Linked DNA regions of Homo sapiens: region 2 is reported to be linked to region 1. The links are microRNA targets in miRTarBase. Many come from high-throughput screens and were not tested one by one. Region 1 holds a microRNA gene; the other region holds the end of a gene's coding sequence. Distances are between the middles of the regions.

The links. Region 1 holds the annotated microRNA hsa-miR-548f-3p (AAAAACUGUAAUUACUUUU, at 3,526-3,544, shown strand). A microRNA usually pairs through its seed, bases 2 to 8, with sites in the 3' UTR of a target mRNA and lowers its output. Matches are read on the target gene's strand: a 7mer-m8 pairs with bases 2 to 8, a 7mer-A1 pairs with bases 2 to 7 and ends in A, and an 8mer does both.
Region 2: miRTarBase lists CRPPA as a target of hsa-miR-548f-3p. Seed matches in the 3' UTR shown: 7mer-m8 at 1,721-1,727.

Annotation. Positions count from the first base shown.
Region 1 is chr7:147,376,183-147,381,584 of GRCh38, reverse strand. MIR548F4 (microRNA 548f-4) reads left to right here and starts at 3,464; the gene lies at 3,464-3,568. All of the region lies in intron 9 of CNTNAP2 (contactin associated protein 2), which reads right to left.
Region 2 is chr7:16,087,175-16,092,576 of GRCh38, reverse strand. It overlaps CRPPA (CDP-L-ribitol pyrophosphorylase A), which reads left to right. Exons shown (of 10, transcript NM_001101426.4): 10 at 778-5,052. The coding sequence ends at 882. Among named protein-coding and RNA genes, the nearest start is that of CRPPA-AS1, 120 kb to the left of the region's middle. RefSeq lists a silencer at 606-806.

The sequences.
Region 1 (5,402 bases):
CTTTCATATATTTTTTACATAGTCTTTTTCATGACCTAGTTGTGTATTGATAAATAGAGAAAATGCAAATATAAAATAAATAATTTTTACATCAGATAACTTTAATTCCTTATATCCACAAACTGCTAGTATATCTAAAACATCGGCAGATACAGTCATAACATAAAATAATATTGTCTTACTGATTTTTTCTTATAAGTGTAAACATTTGCTTAATTACTATGAAATTATACAATATTCTGAAAAATACAATGCCGGTGGTTGGAAGCTTGGGCTGCAGAATAGCCAGAACTGGTTTAAGATGTATTTGTGTGACCCTGACTAACTCACTCATCCTGTCTTAACGCCAGTGTTTTCATTTGTAAGGCAGGAATTAATAATACCCAATTCCTATGGTTTTTGTAAACTGTTAAATAAAACACTGTATTAAAAGCCCCTAGTACAGTGACTGACACCCAGCAGCTGCTCAATCAGCTCTGCCAGTGTCATTTAGTGTTTGCTTGAATTAGACAGCTTTGAGGGAGTAGCGTGCAAGTTTCTCACGTTTAAAAATATTTTGTATTTGAGAGATTCGTTTTTCACTCTATTTAAAAAACAAAAAAAAACCCAGAAAATAATTTCTTAGTCTCGTCTATATTGTCATTTTGAAAGTCTATATATTTTCCAAATACTTTCATATGGGGGATGGCTCTGCTATTAAAAAAATTAGTATCATTGCAGATGGAAAAGTAAAATATGGATATAAACTAGACTCACAATTATCTGCATTAAGATGATAGGGACAATCCCAACTAGTAGGAAATCAAACACAGTTTTATTTAGCTTTGGAATGCTTCTATATATGACTATATATTTTGGTATTCTGTTAATTTGATATTAACTTCAAATCAATAGCAAAGCCAGATTGTGAGGCTCTATCTCAGGAGTTGCTTTGAAATTGGCGAGCCAAGAAATGCTTTGTGTAGCGTGGGCTCTTGCCTTTGTCACCTTAACATTTTTCTGCCTTTTTTTTGGCTTTGATGCTTAGGAGTGTGCTTGGCCTAAAATAGGAGCCTGTGACTGCCATTCTTCCTCCTGCTTCTTCTTTTCTTTGTTGTTATGGTGTTTGTTATTGTTTGTATTATTATTATTCCTCTTGATATAATCTTTAGAAGCTTTTCAATTTTCTGCACTTGGTATAAATAAGATGGTTTTACATGTTATACAAATGTCTTCATGTTTATTGATGAAGCGTGATGCTAGAATGTAAATGCAGAATGCTACAAGAGCACCTCCAAATTTCATTCATAACAAAACCCTTCAATAAAAATCAGGGTTTTTTTTTCAAGATTATAATGTCTATTCTGAGATATTTTAAAACATGGCTTTTTGTATCTGAAAACATTTCTAAAATATTAACTGCACCCCAAAAGTTTATAACATAAATTTTCTGATATAAGATAATTTATTTAAAATACTTAACATTCTGTAATGTCACATCACATAATAGGAAACAGAAACAATAATCTCTAAGGATTACATTTCCTAGGACGAGGCAACATGGGAGCCTGAAAATTTTCCAGTTTCAAACACCTAGAAATGCTAAATAAAATGTAACATACATCTTTTAAGTTATATATCTGAGCATCCAGTAAAATAGGAGAAGCTTTTGGGTATCAAGAAAAAAAGAGAACACTGAAATTCAGGGTGTTAGCTGATGGTGGGCTATAGTAGTCAGAGGGTATTTACTAATCTTTACAATGCAGAATTTTGGATTTCAAGGCCAAACAGAATTAGAAATCAAGTAATAGACCTGTGCAAAGAATAGGAACTCCCTCACGCCCCTAGCCCCACCACATAAAACCTAAAAATGCTAAATTCACAGTAAAGCAGACACTGGAGAAAAATTAACTAGTCAGCAAAGAGGGATGACAAGGAAATTTGTCTGTATTTTATCTTTTTCCAAAAAAAATGATGATTCTTGAGAATGCATAAGCCATAAACTTGCTGAATTAAATTACAGCTTTTGAATTTACACTGACTATTGGATATAACCCCCAAATCAAGAACTTAAAATAGAAAAAATGGTTCCAAGCTGGTATCTTTTGAAATAAAGTGTAACCCCTCTCTGGATTCACTCTGGAATTATAGGATTACTAATGACAAAGCCCTGAAAAATTTAAACTCACAATCCAAAAATATAAAACTCAAGAAAACAAGTATAATGAACAGAATTCAGCAGAAACACCGCATGGAATATTTGGCCCCCATGAATTCAATTTCAGCTAAATTTGGGGATTGAGAAATAAAACATTCATAAATTATTTGAAGTAAAATGAGAATTAAATATACAAGAAAAGAATAAGATATACTGTAATAGGCTGTTCTCATACTGCTAATACAGACATAGGCAAGACTGGTAATTTATAAAGGAAAGAGGTTTGACTCACTGTTCTGCAGTGCTGGGGAGGCCTCAGGAAACTTATAATCATGGCGGAAGGGGAAGCAAACACACCCTTCTTCACATGGAGGCAGCAAGAAGTACAGAGCAAAGGTGAGGGAAAGTCCCTTATAACCATCAGATGTCGTGAGAACTCACTCACTATTGTGAGAATAGCATGGGGGGAACTGCTGCCATGATTCAATTATCTCTCACTGGGTCCCTCCCACGACATGTAGGGATTATGGGAACTACAATTCAAGATGAGATTTGGGTGGGAACACAGCCAAACCATATCAAATAATACTTAAAAATTACCAGTCATTGTTGATAAGGAAATAAATGGATACTCCAGGAATTAAAAATATATTATTGGAATTAAAAACGCATTAGTTATGAACATTCTAACTGGACTCTTTCAGTTATTTTTAAATGTAAAATAAAATATTGTTGGCTTTAGTTACCTTGTTGTACTATCAAACATTAAATCTTACACATTCTATCCAACTGTATTTTTGTAACCGTTAACTGTCACCATTTCCCACCTTACCCACTATCCTTCCCAGCCTTTGATAACCATCATTCAACTATCTCCAGGAGTTCAGTTATTTTAATTTTTAGCTCCCACAAATGAGTGAGAACGCACATAGTTTGTCTTTCTGTGCCTGGTTTACTTCACTTAACATAATGTCCTTCAGTTCTATCTATGTAGTTGCAAATGACAAGATCTCATTCTTTTATATGGCTGAATAGTACTCTGTTGTGTATACGATGAATTCTTTAGGTGATGGATACCCCATTTACCCTGATATAATTATTAGACATTCTTATGTAGCCCATAAATATATAGACCTATTATATACCAATATAAGTTAAATTTTTTTAAAGAAAAAAACCTCTCATTAGTTGCATTAAGCAGATGAGACAAAGCTACAGAGTGAGTTTGTAAACTGAAAGGTAGATTGAATATCGACAATGTCATTCAGAAATTTAAAAAAACTTAGAAACATTAAATATAAATTCTACAATATACAGTATAAAAATGAGTTCTAACGTATTAGGTTGGTGCAAAAGTAATAGTGGTTTTTGCCATTAAAAGTAATGACAAAAACTGTAATTACTTTTGGAACAATATTAATAGAATTTCAGAGGAGAGAAAAGGGAGAATGATGGAGAATCAATTAAAATACGTAACATCTAAGAATTTTCCAGAACATTTAAAAATTCAGATTCAGAAAGGACAATACATCCCAATTAAACATTTTTATAAAGGTAATCTAGCACTAAACACAGCATGCTATAACAGCACATTACCACGGAACATAAAAGTAGCAAGGGAGAAAAGAGAGAGTATCCCTAAGGAACAATTTTAAAACAGTCAGGAAGCTTCTTAAGAAAAGTGAAAACAAAAGGTAGAATTTAGTAGGATAATATACTCAAAGTACTGAGAGAAACTAAACTTTCAACATAGACTTGTATACCAAGCTAAATAAACAGGGAAGATGGTAAAATTAAGATATTTTCAGAAAAACAAAAAATGAAAAAATTTTAAATTAAAAATGTAAAAATAGAAGCACCTTAGTACCAACACATTCCCATTAAAAGCCATCTAAACTAAAGGATGTGTGTCAAAGAATGGAACTATGTCCAGAAAAGAGAGAAATACAAGATGACATAATAACAGAAGAAATATGCAAATGTGGTAAAATCTAAAACTATATTGACTACATAAACTAAAATTATAAAAGTGATAATGACTAATATTAAAGTTAAAAAAGAGAACTAAAACTCAGGACAAAAAGTAGACTATAGCATGATAGGGTGTGATTAGAAGTAAGTTTCAAATACTGTGATTAGGATTATGTTCAGGAGAAAGATCAAGATCTTAAGCTATGTTGGAATTTAATAAGTATTTTTGAAAAAAAATAAGGATAATCCCTAAAATACTAGATATGACATACATACATTTCAAAGCAATTGTAGGGGAAATCGATATTTTAAAAATATTTGATCAACCAAAAGGGGGGGGAGAAGAAGGAATAAAGGAAAATCAAAAAGAAAAAGCAAAATAAGATGGTAGAAATATATTAAGAAATACTATACTGAAAAGACAGAACTATTGATTTTTTCTTAAATCTAGCAAAATACTATTTCTGAGAAGCATGTCTAACACACAGGAACTAAGAAAATTTGAAAGTAAAAGAATTGAGAAAGGTAACTAAGGCAAATACAACTTTTTTAAGAAAAAGAAAATTAGTATGGTTACAATCATATACCAATCTTAGTGCTATAGTATAAACGTATTGAGATCATTTGTAATATACAGTAGTGTTACTGTGTGGAGAGGTTCAGGCTTCAAGGTGCTGGTGTCTGAATTTGATCCTATTTATTGCCCCAGTTGTGTTATTAAGTTATTGTGCATCATGTTTTTTCTTACCTCTAAAATAGAGGAAATAATGGTTTGTATCTCATAGTATTATTATGAGGATGAACTGAGTAAATACACGTGAAATTATTGAGCATAGAATAACACTCTGAAGCACAGAGAACTCACTGATACTGAGAAAAATGAGGTGTCAAAAAATATTTTAAGACAACACAAGGAAAAAGGCGCTCTGAGAGATAAGGAAGGTTAGTATACAATGAAAAAAGGTAAAATTCACTACAAGTTAGAAAAATTCTAAATATGTCTGTACCTGATAACAGAGTGTTCAAATAGATAACATTTTCAAAACATATGAACCCTACTTCCTCGATGAAACCTTCCCTGATGACTGTTTCTTACTCCAAATGCTAGGTCCCTCCCCTCAGTGCTTCAGTAGCACCCAGGGCATAAGTTGTATGATAGTCTCCTGTCACACAGTTATACTTCCTTGTTCCTCATTTCTCTCCTTCGACTATCTGCCATAAACTCTCTGAACACTGGGACTGCCCTCTGTGCTCTCACTACCGAGTTATCATACAAACGTGATAAATACTAAGC
Region 2 (5,402 bases), 130 Mb from region 1:
AGCGGCATTATCGCTAATGCCTTATCTCAATGTATATGGATGCAAGAAACAATAGGAAGGAGCTACAATAGGTCCTAGTAATATATTGGATATTGGGATAAGGCATTAAGGATGATTCTGGAGTTTAGAGATTGGTTACCACATCCCTCTTTTAAAAGATAGCACAATTCACAACACAGAGACCTGAAAGATATTAGCTCTGTTTCTATTTTCCCTTCACATTATAATCTTCTCATAAATAATTAGAATAAATGGATTCTTACAGGCAATATGATTTCAAAGGCAAAACCACTTTTTAGCAACTTGTAAAATAACTCATTTCTTGAATTTTCCCGATTCTTACTTTACAAACAGCAAGCAGGGTTTTCCCCCCTATACCGGTACTCACAAACAGTTCATAACAAAGTTGGAGAACACTCAGAAACAAGATGAAGAAAAGGATTGCATCATTGATGAAATATTCACACTTCAGTGAAGAGCCAAAGGTTGTCAGAAATTGGATTAAGGGGAAATAATCTTTTCTTTCTGTTAGCATTTGAAATTGTGTCAGTGTTTTTCCTTGCATCTTAAGCAAATATTTTTTGGTCTATAATGAAAAGTGTTTGTGAAAGTATTTCCTCTTTATTCGGGGAACCGTGTCCATGACAGTGGCTAGAGTCTGAGTTTCTAAAATGCCAAATCCAGACCGCAGCAGATCTTGAAAAGTGGCTTTTTATCAAACTTAACACATGGCATATGTTTTTTCTAAAATATTACTGGTTTATCCTTTCTTTTCAGGATGATCAGAAGCTACAGGAGAGTTTAAGGCAAGGTGCTATCATTATTGCTTCATTAATCAAGGAAAGAAATTCTGGACTCATTGGTCAGCTTCTGATAGCATGAAGAACACAAAAAATTACCTATTTTCTAAAACATCTATTTGCGTATCTTAATTGTGCTTTGTGCCCCCGCTGCTGTGTGTGGTAGAATGTTTCAGTTGTCTTTTATATCTTCTCTATAATTTGTAGGATGTGATGCTTAGATTATAAAGCAGATTAATGTTTATATCTGTGAAATAAAGAATACTTTTGTGTATGACAAATATTAATTGCCTGAACCAGAAAAAAATAGTAGATAAGTGGAAAATAATAGCCTTCAAATGAATCTTTCCACAGAGACATGAACGGTCAAATAGAAATAATGATGGGGTGAGCTATTCTTTCAAGGAATGAGAATTTAGAAAACTTCAGTTATTATCCTAACTGTTAATTAATAATTTACACTATTATGAAGCTAATGGATAAACTTCAGAATTATTCTCACTTCTATAATTGTCCTGTCACCAGGTGATATTTTGTCTTTTTGTCTTGTGTTAAAAATGTCTACACTTTAATAAAAAAGGGTGAGTGGGATACCAGGGAACGGAACTGTTTGTTTCTAGCATTTTCCCCATTTGCCACATATTACTCAAGATCCCTAAAACAGATGTCATTTCCTTCTTTTCTGTTTTTAAATTGTATGTTATTTTTGGTTTATGAACTATAATTATGACTTACATTATTTTAAAGGGTCTCTAGTTTTTCTGAATGAACTTAAAAGTGTCTGGAAAGTTTCGTAGGTGATTCTGGTCAATCCCTGGTTAGTTATCTTCTATAAGGTAGAGAATCTATTGTACATCATAGAGTTAAATTAGTTATTTCAATTCAGATACTGCTACCTTTTAAAATCAAGTTCTTATTTCCAGTTTTCATTGGTATATACATCTGAAATATTAATATTTTCCCTTGCATGTTATAATTATGGGTGTCCTTTAATTCATTAGAGGTGACTTTTAATCTATACATACACTTACTCTATTTATTTTATTTTTTATTGTTTTGAAATGCAGTCGCCCTCTGTCAGGCTGGAGTGCAGTGGCACAATCTCAGCTGACTGCAACCTCTGCCTCCTGGGTTTAAGCAATTATCCTCCCTCAGCCTCCCGAGTAGCTGGGATTACAGGCACCTGCCACCACACCTGGCTAATTTTTTTTTTTTTTTTTTTTTTTTGTATTTTTAGTAGAGAAGGGTTTTCGCCATGTAGGCCAGGCTGGTCTTGAACTCCTGACCTCAAGTGATCTGCCTGCCTCGGCCTCCCAAAATGCTGGGATTATAGGTGTGAGCCACCATACCCAGCCAACATACATTTATTTTATTGAAACAGATTAGGGCTTAGGCTGCACGTGGAAACTATAAAAGTTGCATGAAGTGTTTTCAGTTAAAGATACACTATACAATATCTACCTTGTGGAATTTTTATTTAACATGTTGGGTGATTTTCCCTCTAGTGTTCAAGTATATATATAGTAGGAGAGTTTATATTTTACATTCTCCTAATTGAAATGTGTTATTTGAATGTAGGCTTGTATCTAAATTCCTGGGCCTGCCCTTTTTCTCTCTCTAGGAATATTAAGAAATTTAAAATCCATTAATTTAAGTTTTTGAGGATGGAAATAGGTAAGCAATGTGTGGATTGTGGTTAGGAATGTCTGTGCCTTTGTTCAGATGTCGGCTGTGTGTGTGACGAAAACCACAGCTGCCAAGTCCCCAACATGCACCTGTTGAAGTCATCAGGTGAAAATGTTTAAGACTTTGAAAGTGCTCATAAAGGAAGAAGGGGAAATGTTATCAAGGCTTTAAAGAGAGGGTAAGTGCCTTGAAGAAGAATGCAGTAAACTGGGCATATTTGTGGCACAGCAAAATCACCCTGATCGCTGGAGTGCTGGCTGAGTTAACATAGACTTCAGCTTAAGGAATCCTACAGCAGACAAGAATTTATCTCAGAGTACTTACTATGACATTACCCTAGGCAACTGGTAACATTTAGTATAATTTAGTTAATAAAATATTAAGTTGTGCCTGGAAAAAATAGCATTTGGTCCTTCATAGCAGGCAAAGCAATTCACAGCATTGGGAAAAAAAAATACATACATACATATACATGTATGTATACCCATATATATGTATATACATGCATGTATACCCATATATATGTATATACTTACATGTATATACATATATATGTATGTACGTACATATATACCCATATCTATGTATGTACGTACATATATACCCGTATATATGTACGTACATATATACACATATATGTATGCACGTACATATATACACATATATGTATGTACGTACATATATACACATTATGTACATACATATATACGTATATATGTACATGCATGTATGTATGTATATACGTACGCATACACACATATATTTATATACGTACGCATACACACATATATGTATATACGTACGCATACACACATATATGTATATACGTACGCATACACACATATATGTATATACGTACGCATACACACATATATGTATATACGTACGTATATACACACATATATGTATATACGTACGTATATATGTATTTTTATGTTTTATGTATATGTATTTTATATGTATATATATCTGCACATCCTTCACTATTTTCATGAGGAAATTGGAGCTCAGGGATCTTAGTTACCTTGCCAAAATCATGTGACTGAATAGTAACAAAAGTTTGGGCTTAAAATAAGGAAGACTGATAATAAGTGTTAAGCTTATATTCCTGTCTAACAATGACCCCTGGCAAAGACATCTGATATATAAGCCACGTCTGATATATAAGACGTGATATATAAGCCAGAGGCACTGAATGAACATTGGCGAAATGGACAAGAAGGGTGGGACACTTATGTCCAGGGACTAGGTGAAAGTCCTGGAGCTTTTGGCTTTCCAGCCACCTTCCCAGCATAAAGAAATTGTAGCTAAAGTTAAGGGAATGAATAGAAGTATTGGCCAAAAGAGAAATTATTTTGTTGTTTAAGAGATCTGGCCGGGCGCGATGGCTCACGCCTGAAATCCCAGCACTTTGGGAGGCCGAGGCAGGCAGATTACGAGGTCAGGAGATCCAGACCATCCTGGCTAATGCGGTGAAACCCCGTCTCTAGTAAAAATACAAAAAAAATAGCCAGGCATCGTGGCGGGCGCCTGTAGTCCCAGCTACTCAGGAGGCTTAGGCAGGAGAATGGCGTCAACCTGGGAGGCGGAGCTTGCAGTGAGCCGACATAGCGCCACTGCACTCCAGCCTGGGCAACAGAGCAAGACTCCGTCTCAAAAAAAAAAAAAAAAAAAAAAAGAGAGATCCAGAGGTAACTTTACAGTTACATTTTCATCACTGCTTCTGTAAATTTACTTTAGTAAAAGCTGTCTATTCTCACTTTATTTTCCAAAATCTCTTAAAAAATAATAGTGATTATGCTTCAAGGTTTCTGAAAATGCTTCCACTTGTGGGAAATTTTGTTGCAAAATGGTTTTCTTTCTAAACTTACGCTAGTTAGTTAAATGCAAATTAAAGTTAGTCGTCTTAGGAGTTCATCATAGCGTGAGTAATGGTTTGATTAATGACATTTTGGTAGAGGTCCTATTTTTTTTCATAAAAGTGCTCAATTTGAGATGACTTGTTGCAAGTATACTCATTTACAGGTAAGAGTCAGCTCCCTATATTCTCTCAGAGTCATTGTTATGGTTATTATTGTAAGTATTTTACATTAATTTAACAGAAATTTTTTCTTCCCTAACTTATAACTCAACTTTATGTAAATACAGTGATCATCTTATAAAAATCAAATTACAGAATGTCTTAAAATCTGTAAATTTGACTTTGTTTTAATGTTGAAACTACAAATTCACAGAGGCATAAATCTAACATCTTAATTAAAATGTCAACCATATGCAAGAAGAAAGATAGAAGTTATTTAGAAAGTTTAATTTGAAAACAGAATAATGAAGCATTTTAATTGATATAGGATTTGTTAGTATGGCTTAAAATCAGTGGACTAGAAGTAGCTGTGTAGGTGGTGGTTGGCATTATAGTTGCATTTATATATGTTCTTATTAATTTCAGTTTCAAAATTGTAAGAAGCATATGCATATTTTTAAGGTGACATTGAAAAGTACTATAAAGATTCTAAATATGTTGTTTTTACAAAACAAAATGTAAATAAATTATTGATTTAAAATCTAATGGCATTTTCTTTTTTTTTAGTTTATACATGTTTTTTCAAACTCAGTCACAATTGAATCACTAAATGTAACATTCTCAGAATATAACGTTGTGATGGTTTATATTATATAAAGATATAATTTGAAGTCCAGATCTATATTCTCTAAATATATATATATATACACATATATACCTATGTATGTAAATATATATATTTTATAGTACTCACATATATATATAAAATTACATGTATAAACATATATATATAACCATATATATATATATTTGATTATGAAACCAGAAGTCTTAAATAGATTTCCTCTTCTTCTCCTAGTTGTTAGCAATTATAGTGGCTGCTAAGGATATAAAAC